3 linked regions of the Homo sapiens genome follow. The protein of the gene in region 3 purifies or fractionates together with the protein of the main gene of each other region. This does not show direct contact. Each region holds a gene or a part of one and is shown on either strand. Other genes may lie near its edges. The genes, in order: WHAMM, OCIAD2 and ZFYVE1.

Region 1 (3,132 bases), on a different chromosome or scaffold from region 3:
GTACCAGACTCCCAAGACAAAGTACATGGCTGTATAGGAGAGAGAGGTCAGAGAAGACCTGGCGGAAAAGGCTGTGGGGTTGAGACCTAAGGATGGGCATGGGTTTGCCAGGACATGAAGGGTGCAGGGAGAATTCCAGGCACTTAAGAGAGCAGGCCCTTTGGGGGCAGGCAGGAAGCAGCATGGTATTGCTGGACTAAAACCTGTGGCAGGGGCAGGGGCTGCCCAGGGGAGGCAACCAAGTCTCTGAGGGTTTTGTCTGCCAGGCTGAGGGGCTGCCCTTCCTGTGTGGGCTGGAAAGCCAGGGAGAGGTGAAGACTGGCAGTGCTTTGGAGGCCGACTGGAGAGCTCTGAAGCTGGGCAATAGGAGACACTTGTCCCCACTTCCTTGGCTCTGAATTCCCTGAAGCCAAAGTCTGGATTGACTTCAAGGCTTGGCTGGAAAAAGCAGGAAAAGGGAGAAAGGAAGGAGAGAAGGTTCCAGAGGAGGAAAGGAAGCGTTGATGCACAGAAGACACAATTGGGCCAGGAATTTTTATTGTGAGAACGTTCTTTTGAAAAGGATCCTTTTTTCAAAGGCCTCTTGTGTTTGGCAGCCCTTAGAAAGCAAATTCTGAGAATTATTTTAGCCTGATTAAGCTCGCTGGTATCTCAAAATACTGAAATTATAAATACGTAATTACAAACAATGCCAAACTGCAAAATATGCATAAGAAAAGTCCCACAAAGTTGTGATTTTGCTACTTTTTCAATTCCAAATTCTTTCCCTAGGAAGTTTGATGCTGAGCCTGGCCTGTCTGTGGTGGGGAAGGAGGCCTGGGCCACAGCCACTGGACCTGTCTCTGGGATCTGGACCTGATGCCCAGCGAGTAGCCCGCAGGTTGCGTCCCCCACTGGAACACCCCTGGGAACCTGGGTGGGAGCGGCAGGTACAGGGGCCAGTGCAGAGTCAGGGCTTGGCCCATCAGGCCTGGGCCAGCACAGTGAGGCACATTCATTCATACACAGGAGTTGGATTTGCATTCTGAAAAGGTAGCACACATGACAGACCCGTGGGCAACCTGGCAGTGGCTGGGAAACCTGGCAGTGGCCATGCCACAGAGGGAGACCCAGGCTGCAGCTGCTGAAAGGGACTCACGCCCCTCCCAGCTGTGCCAACTGAGGCCCCTCAGGCTGCTGTGTACCAGTTAGTTAAGACACTGGAAGGCCAGGTGTGGTGGCTCACGCCTGTAACCCCCAGCATTTGGGAGGCCAAGGTGGGAGGATCACGAGGTCAAGAGATCGAGACCATCCTGCCAACATGGTGAAACCCCATCTCTACTAAAAATATAAAAATTAGCTGGGTGTGGTGGCACACGCCTGTAGTCCCAGCTACTCGAGAGGCTGAGGCAGGAGAATCACTTGAACCCAGGAGGCAGAGGTTGCAGTGAGCTGAGATCGTGCCACCGCACTCCAGCCTGGTTGACAGAGCAAGACTCTGTCTCAAAAAAAAAAACAAAAAAACTGAAGTAGGAAGATTTCTGTTCTATATCAATCAGGACTTTCTTTGTAAACGAGGTGCGTTCCTTTTGTTCTGTGGAGACCCAGGAGTAATATCACCAGAGTGAGGGTGATGAGGTTAGTAGGGATGCTCGCAGTCTGAGAAATGAACGGACTGCTTTGCATCAGTCCCTTCCCCTTCCCTGATTTTAAAAATTTAATTTTAAGGAGAAAATACTTCAGCATGAGACTTCAGTTCCTGAGGAAAATAACACTATTGCTCCATCCTTAGTATTCACTTAAACAAATGTTTAGCTAAAATTTTATTAAAAACTTTCAGCCCACCCGGACACGGAAGACTTTGCTTTTACAGCAGCTAAGGTATGTTTTCATTACCCCGTGAGTGATGCTAATGCATTGCAAATAGTTATTATGAGTTTATGTAGTGCTTGGTGCCTAAAATAAATTTCATTTAAATATTTAAAATAACTCCTGAATATAAGCAATTTATTCTGATTACTGATAAAATAACATTCACATTCAAGCCTACAAATCTGAGAAATCATTATTCCATATGCACAGAAGGCCACAGTCAGTAGTCTAATAGTACTGCTTACCAGTGTAGTGTAAACTTCTTTCAGAATCAGGGAACAATTCTAGATCAGCCATGGTGAGAAATAAGTGCTCTTCTCTTAGGCCAGCGACACTTCCGATGGGTCTTGACATCCCACCTATGGGCTGGTGTGTGAAACTCTCATCTCTACGTCCCTCCCCAGTTTTAAGAGTCACCATGTCACATAAAAGCTCCAGCATCAGCCAGGCACGGTGGCTCATGCCTATAATCCCAACACTTTGGGTGGCCAAGGCAGGTGGATCACGAGGTCAGGAGTTCAAGACCAGCCTGGCCAACATAGCGAAACCTTGTCTCTACTTAAATATACAAAAATTAGCCAGGCGTGGTGGTGCATGCCTGTAATCCCAGCTACTCGGGAGGCTGAGACAGAGAATTGCTTGAACCTGGGAGGTGGAGGTTGCAGTAAGCCAAGATCGTGCCACTGCACTCTAGCCTGGATGACAGAGAGATTCTGTCTCAAAAGAAAGAAAAAAAAAAGGCTGGGCGTGGTGGCTCACACCTGTAATCCCAGCACTTTGGGAGTCTGAGGCAGGCGGATCACGAGGTCAGAAGATCGAGACCATCCTGGCTAACACGGTGAAACCTCGTCTCTACTAAAAAATACAAAAAATTAGTTGGGCAAGGTGGTGGCGCCTGTAGTCCCAGCTACTCGGGAGGCTGAGGCAGGAGAATGGCGTGAACCCAGGAGGCGGAGCTTGCAGTGAGCCAAGATCGCACCACTGCACCCCAGCCTGGGAAGCGGAGCTTGCGGTGAGCCGAGATGGCGCCACTGCACCCCAGCCTGGGCGACAGAGTGAGACTCCATCTCAAAAAAGAAAAAAAAAAAAAATGCTGCAGCAGCCTACACAAGGCCCTGCTGATCTTCCGGGGTGTTATGTGGCCCATCTATCAGCACCCTGTTAGTATGCTTTTCGATAGGTCTAAGACTCACCCACTTTATTCAAGCCTACTGTGGCAGGTGCCTTTGTCAAACTTGAGCCTAACCATCCCACTGGCCAGGGTCCTGCTCATCACTGTCC
Region 2 (3,751 bases), on a different chromosome or scaffold from region 3:
CTCAGTCAGTCCTGGCAGCTCAGCCCAGAAAACTTTGTCAGCCATGGCTGGGGTAACTGTGTCCAGAGGTGTTTGAACAAGAGCCACTCCATCTTGAATAGGGACTGAGTAAAATAAGGCTGAAACCTACTGGGCTGCCTTCCCAGGTGGTTCAGCATTCTTAGTCACAGGATGAGATAGAAGGTTGGCACAAGGTACAGGTCACAAAGACTTTGCTGATGAAACAGGACTCAGTAAAGAAGCCAGCCAAGACCCACCAAAATCAAGATGGTCATGAAAGTGACCTCTGGTCGTCCTCATTACTCATTAAATGCTAATTTTAATGCATTAGCCTGATAAAAGACCCTCCCACCAGGGCCATGACAGTTTACAAGTGCCATGGCAACGTCAGAAAGTTACCCTATATGGTCTAAAAAGTGAAGGAACCCTCAGTTCCGGGAATTGCCCACCCTTTTCCTGGAAAATTCATGAATAATCCACCCCTTGTTTAGCATAGAATCAAGAAATAACTACCAGTATAATTAGCTAAGCAGCCCACACAGCTGCTCTGCCAGTGGAGTAGCCATTCTTTTTTGTTGTTGTTCTTCTTGTTTTTTGTTTTTTTTTTGTTTTTTTTTTTTTTGAGACAGAGTCTGGCTCTGTCGCCCAAGCTGGAGTGCAGTGGCGCAATCTCGGCTCACTGCAACCTCTGCCTCCGGAGTTCAAGCGATTCTCCTGCCTCAGCCTCCCGAGTAGCTGGGATTACAGGCATAGAGCACCATGCCTGGCTAACTTTTCGTATTTTTAGTAGAGAGAGTGTTTCACCATGTTGGCCAGGCTGGTCTGAACTCCTGAGCTCAAGTGATCTGCCTGCCTTTGCCTCCCAAAGTGTTGGGATTATGGGCGTGAGCCACCGCACCCGGCCTGTTTTCTATACTTCCTTAATAAACTTGCTCTCACTCTACGGACTCACCCCGAATTCTTTCTTGCGAGAAGTCCAAGAACCCTCGCTTGGGGTCTGGATCGGGACCCCTCTCCGGTAACAAGTGATATCGGTATTAAAGGTACCCCCACATGTCAAAGGCTTCCCTCCACAAGTCAGAGTTGGGGAGGGACAGGAGGCAGCAGGGGACCGACAAAGAGCAATGGAAAGAGAAGGCCTGGGAGCCAAGCAGGCCTGGGGTTGACTCCAGGCTCCCTTAGTGGCCTGCACAACTCAGATGACCCGTCTGTGAAGTGCAGGTCACAGTGGGCACCACACACGGCTGCAGAAAGGAGTGCAAAGGTGATGCCCACGCCTGGCCTAGGGCGGGGGCGCAATACATGGCTGTTGCGGCTGTGATTGCTGGAGGAAGGGAGTCATTTGGAAGGCACAAAGGAACTAGAACCTACTCGGTGTCGGGACAAGCCTCAAGGATGGGGCAGGGGTTCCGGCAAGAGCTGGGTTCCAGCCTGGGTTGCCACCAACAGCGAAAGTGACTGCCAGGTGGCAGTAGGGTGACTTCACCAGCTTAAGTGCTTAGCGGGCAGGCGAGGGGGCGGAGCAAGAGAAGAAAACACAAAGGGCCGGAAGGAAGCCGGGGAGACAGGTGGGGTACTCGGGAAGCTGGAGCGGGCCGGCGGTGCAGTCACGGGGGAGCGAGGCCTGCTGGGCTTGGCAACGAGGGACTCGGCCTCGGAGGCGACCCAGACCACACAGGTGAGCCCCCGCCCCGGGGAGTGTTGACGGCGGGAGGGGGTGGCCTCGGGGGAACGCGGCGCCGCAGGGCAGTCCTTCGAAGGCCGCGCGGTGCAGCGGTGGCCGCCCCCCACTCTCCCCTAACTCGGACCCCGGCGGCCCCGGCACGGGCGAGGGGCTGGGGAGCTTGGGGTGGCGCTGGCTGCTTCTGGCCAGGGATGGCAGCGGACTCCAGTAGGCTGACTCCCGGCTTCCCCGACCGCATCAGAAAGTGCAGTGTCCCCCGTCCGCCGTCCAGCCCTGCAGGCGCCCCCCTCCAAGCCATCCTAAGAAGCACCCCCGCCCCCCATGCTGGGGCGCGCCCTCCTCCGCACATTCGTCGGTCAGCACCCACGAACCCACGGGTCCCTTCCCCACCACTGAGGAAACAGAGGGTCCCCGGACCACCCCAGCGTGGGGGGTGGGAGCTACACCTGCAAGGCAAGACCCTCGGAAGGCTTGCTTTTAGGTGCAGACTGAGGACTAAGTGGGTGCCAGGGGACCTGGCCACCGAAGCTGAGAGGTATATTTGCCTCCCAATATAGGGCAGCGGCCTAATGGCTAAGCAAAGATAATCTAATTTGGCGTGGTCAGCAAAGACTTCCTGGGAGTGCTCAGGAAATGGAAGGTGTGCAGGGGCTTTATGGACGTATCCCTCATCCTCATCCTCATCCTAGTCTTCATTCCTGCAAGAGCCCCTCACCATTGTTGTGTCCATTATGCCCAATTAACAGTGGAGAAAGCTGAGGCAGAGACGGATTAAGTCATTTGCACCAAAGGGATCGCAGGGGTAAAGAGTCACGATTTGAACTCTGGTCTCTCTGACCCCAGTACTTTCCCGTGCAGGGCACCGTGCTGCCCCTGTAATCACATTAGACACCTGTGATGAAACTTGGTGCGAGTACGGGTCCCCTTGGCTCAAATGCCTCAAAGTTTAGTAACTGATGTAGGAAACAGAATTGTATATAAGAGGTTCATTTTGCAGAAGAAAAGCAGAGGTAGAGGTAGAGTTCAGGGCTGCAGAATGCAGTGGCCACTGGGGGCAGGAGGAGGCTCAAAGTCCACCTGGATTATGTCCATCATTGCCAAATCCAGGGTCCACTTTTCTAAGCCATGTGATGGTGTTGATGATTCACTCCCTCCTTCAGAAATTCCCTCCCCTCTGTATCAGCTATTCCTTCTCAGTCATTTCCTTGGCCTGCTTTTTTTTTTTTAATCTTTCTTCTCTTTTCGATATTCCCTTGGGCTCAGTGTTCATATTCTCCAGTACTGTTTTTAGACACATTTATTAAAGTTCCCTGCTTTAACTCTCATCTCTATGATGGCAGCTCCCAACTTCATCTCTCTAGCCTACCCCTGTTCTGGAACTCTAGACCCAAATCGTCAAATATTAACAGTGGCTAATTCCACTGTTTGCCCCCACAGGCACCCAAATCCAACATTTCCAAACCCAAATTTAGCATCTCTATCAAAGATGCTAAATTCCCACCAGGGTCTTTGTTCACGTCCCTGTAACTCCTTGTCTGGACTAGTGTACCACCTTCCAACCTGGTCCTCCTGCCCCAGAGTCCATCTACCCTCCACAGATCCTCCTGAAAGCTTAGGAGTCCTAGTTCCTTTGTGACATGACTAGATGGAATGGACCCTGCTTTCTTTTCTTCCTTAGCATCCCATGCATACTTTTCATGTTGTGTAACTGTTGACTTGTCTATCTCCCCTTTTGGACTGTGAATTCCTTCACAGCGGTGATCTTGTCTTATCCTTCTTCATATCCCCTGGCCTGGCACATAATCGACACTCAGTGCACAGTGTGGTATTTCCACTCTATTCTAAATCTGATCTGTCCCCATTAGTGAGTGCATGTATGTGTGCTGGTGGAAGAGGAGCACTGGAAGTTGAGTTTGCAGATGGACTAATGACAAAAGGAAAAACACATTTTCCAAATAACTCCAGTGGATCCTCAGGATGCTTTTAAGCTTGATGCAAACATTTAGTCATGGCATAGTGATTCTCTTCTACCTTCCTTAGACACTGGGTCAAGGAGTAAGCAGAGGA
Region 3 (3,229 bases):
AGGCAGAGGCAGGAGGACCACTCAAGGTCAGGAGTTCGAGACCAGCCTGGCCAACATGGTGAAACCCTGTCTCTACTAAAAATACAAAAATTAGCCGGGCGTGGTGGTATAACCCCAGCTACTTGGAAGCCTGAGGCATGAGAATCGCTTAAACCTGGGAGGTGGAGGTTGCAGTAAGCCAAGATCACACCACTGCACTCCAGCCTGGACAATAGCGAGAGTCAGTCTCAAAAAAAAAAGAAAGGTTAGCTAACCTCTCAGGGGCTTACTCATCTTTAACAACCCACCTTCAAGAACTGTGATGAGGATGAGAAGAAAGAACATGCCTGACACACTGGCCTGGTACTCAACACCCTGTGGGCGCTCAGAATGGGAGCACTTGGTGAGCACAGCCAGCAGGCTATGCTCTGCCTTCTGTGCCAAGGACAGTTCTTGCCTCTCCCAGGTACCCCTGGGGACAGATGCAACCTGAGATTTAAGCTTGGGCAAATCCAGCAATTCCTACATCATCTACTCACTTTGTGAGCTGCAATGAGGAAATCTGCTCCAGGCCATTTTCATCACTACTCACTTTTGCTCGCTCCCCTACAATGTGCCACGCTGCCCCAGGCCTGGCCAGCCTTGCGTAAGCCTGCCAAGCACTGGTTGATTTCCCTCCCTCTCCCCCTCGCCATCCTAAATACAAATACCCCTCACATCCAGGGCTGGGTAGCTATTTTAAATCTTCTTTTTTTTTTTTTTTTGAGACAGAGTCTCGCTCTGTTGCCCAGGCTGGAGTGCAGTGGTGCGATCTCGCCTCACTGCAAGCTCCACCTCCCGGGTTCATGCCATTCTCCTGCCTCAGCCTCCCTAGTAGCTGGGACTACAGGTGCCCGCCACCACGCCTGGCTAATTTTTTTGTATTTTCAGTAGAGACGGGTTTTCACCGTGTGTTGGCCAAGACTGATCTCTTGACTTCGTGATCCACCTGCCTTGGCCTCCCAAAGTGCTGGTATTATAGGCGTGAGCCACGGTGCCCGGCCAGCTATTTTAAATCTTAAACTACTAACAGTTTGGCTGGTGTGACAGACTAAAGACAGCCATAGAATCTTTCACCCACTTTCCATCTTTGACACTCCTGCCCCCTCCCTTGAATCTAGACAAACCTGTGACGGCAGCAGACTCCAGGAGATGACAGCAGAAGTGCCTGTCTGCAGTCCTAGGCCTCAAGAGATGGGCAGCTTCAGCCAGGCACAGTGGCTCACGCCTGTAATCCCAGCACTTTGGGAGGCCAAGGCCGGTGGATCACCTGAGCTCAGGAGTTCGGGACCAGCCTGGTCAACATGGTGAAACCCCGTCTCTACTAAAAATACAAAAATTAGCTGGGCATGGTGGCACGTGCCTGTAATCCTAGCTGCTTGGGAGGCTGAGGTAGGAGAATTGCCTGAACCTGGAAGGCGGAGGTTGCAGTGAGCCAAGATCGCACCACTGTACTCCAGCCTGGGTGACAGAGTAAGACTCCATCTCAAAAAAACAAACAAACAAACAAACAAAAAAAAAGAGATGGGCAGCATCCACTTCCTGTCTCTTGGAACATTAACTCCTGGAACCCTGACATCATTTAAGAAGTGCCAAAGAAACCACTGAAGAGGCCTGGAGAATACAAAGACCGAGTGAGGCTCTGCTACACACAGCCTCCTAACTGTCCCTGCCAAGGCACCCAGCTTGTAAGTGAGGTCAGCTTGGACCCTTGAGACCACTCCAGCTACCACCCTGGAATATCAGGTAGTAACTAGAGCCAATGCCACTTGGAGCTGAATAATTACCCTTCCTGACTTCTAGACCTGCAAAGACATCAAAGATGGCTGTTTTAAGCCTTTACATTTTAAGGTAGCTCGTTACACAGCACTAGATGCTGTAAGAGAATGGCTTCCAGCAATAAACATGAAACTACTAAGGCATTCAGCAGAAGCAAGCAAATGTGTGGCATTGTGTAATTGATTCCTTTACCACCCATCTCAATCTAGGTTGGCAAGCCTTTACAAAGTGACAGCCCAGGGCACCTGAAACCCCTCAACCCGCATCCACTACCCCCAAGAGAAGCACTGCCAGGCCCACCTAGTGGTATGTCAATGGCTGTCACCACGGCTCCCAGAGTGTTCTGCACGGCCTCGCCCACCTTCCGAGCAATGAGCGTTCCACCTTCATCGTCCACTTGTGCCTCGGTAACAGCTGTAGACAGTAATAAAGGAAATGCTGTCACCTCTAAGTCCTCTCCCAAATGGAAAACTCAGGGACCAATAGCAGAACGCTTCTGGATTCTGATCCCAGACACCACTGTGCTGTCCTGCAACTACTGCAAGGGTCTGTGCTGTGGGTCAGGTCAGCCCAGACTCTGAAATTAGATGACATCTGTTAGTCCTTTAGCTGCAACCTTCTGGGGCTCCTTTATAACCCTTCTTTTAAAGTAAGGCAGAAAGGTTCTAGGAGCGAAAACTAGAACCTTCTCAAAGGAGAAGACTGGTCTAAGCCATCTCTGGTAAACACTGCAGCCTTTTCAGAATTCAGTTGCTATGTGCGCATTCCCTTCCCCCAGAAGCAACTCTGCAGCTAAGAATGCAGGACAGGTTCGAGCCCCTGAGGAACAGCACCCATAGGACGCTGTTAACAAGGAGCTTAGAGGCTGACTGGCCAAGACCAGAAGTACTCTCACAAGGGAGATGTGGATTAGGGCATCTGGATATCCAGTTCTTAGCACCCAGGGCCAATGTGGGAGGTTCTCCCCTCCACCCCTGCAGCTCCCAGGTCCCACGTTACCTAACTGGACGTTCCTGGCTTCGTAGCAGTTGTCACAGACCCGCACTGGCGCAGGGCCCCAGCCCCGCTCAGGCACTGGCCGAGTCTTTGATGAACAGCTGTCACAGAAGCCCTCCCCACAGGCTCGGCAGTGATGCTTAGTGTCGTTATCTTTAAAGGACGTCGCACACTTGTTGCAGCTCTGTTCCAAGCCCAAAACAAAACAGAGAGGCAGGTAGGTATGGTACATGTCTGCTCAGCTGAGAAAGTCAACAAGACCCCGGAGCAAGCAGAAACTAAGGCAGGTGGCGTTAGCTCAACAAGGACAAGAGCTTTCTAGTAACGCGTTATCTGAGAATGGAAAGGAAGCCTGGTGGACAGTGAGTTTCCTTTCACTAAGTGTCTGGGTTGAAGCTGGGTGCTCTCTTGCTCTGGGTGCTGTAGCGTTAATGGA

The links.
Region 1: the proteins of ZFYVE1 (region 3) and WHAMM purify together in Homo sapiens (affinity purification with mass spectrometry, with the first as the bait; one study listed by BioGRID). This does not show direct contact.
Region 2: the proteins of ZFYVE1 (region 3) and OCIAD2 purify together in Homo sapiens (affinity purification with mass spectrometry, with the first as the bait; one study listed by BioGRID). This does not show direct contact.

Annotation. Positions count from the first base shown.
Region 1 is NC_000015.10:82,833,497-82,836,628, reverse strand, and holds the end of WHAMM (WASP homolog-associated protein with actin, membranes and microtubules), read right to left. Parts: coding exon 3,093-3,132; 3' UTR 521-3,092; downstream 1-520. UniProt on the Homo sapiens protein: Acts as a nucleation-promoting factor (NPF) that stimulates Arp2/3-mediated actin polymerization both at the Golgi apparatus and along tubular membranes. Its activity in membrane tubulation requires F-actin and interaction with microtubules.
Region 2 is NC_000004.12:48,904,585-48,908,335, reverse strand, and holds the start of OCIAD2 (OCIA domain-containing protein 2), read left to right. Parts: upstream 1-1,561; 5' UTR 1,562-1,678; intron 1,679-3,701; exon of another isoform or gene 3,702-3,724; 5' UTR 3,725-3,751. UniProt on the Homo sapiens protein: Has an essential role in the assembly of mitochondrial respiratory chain complex III. Is also required for STAT3 activation and plays a role in cell migration.
Region 3 is NC_000014.9:72,971,983-72,975,211, forward strand, and holds part of ZFYVE1 (zinc finger FYVE domain-containing protein 1), read right to left. Parts: intron 2,978-3,229; coding exon 2,797-2,977; intron 2,212-2,796; coding exon 2,098-2,211; intron 1-2,097. UniProt on the Homo sapiens protein: Plays a role in the formation of lipid droplets (LDs) which are storage organelles at the center of lipid and energy homeostasis. Regulates the morphology, size and distribution of LDs.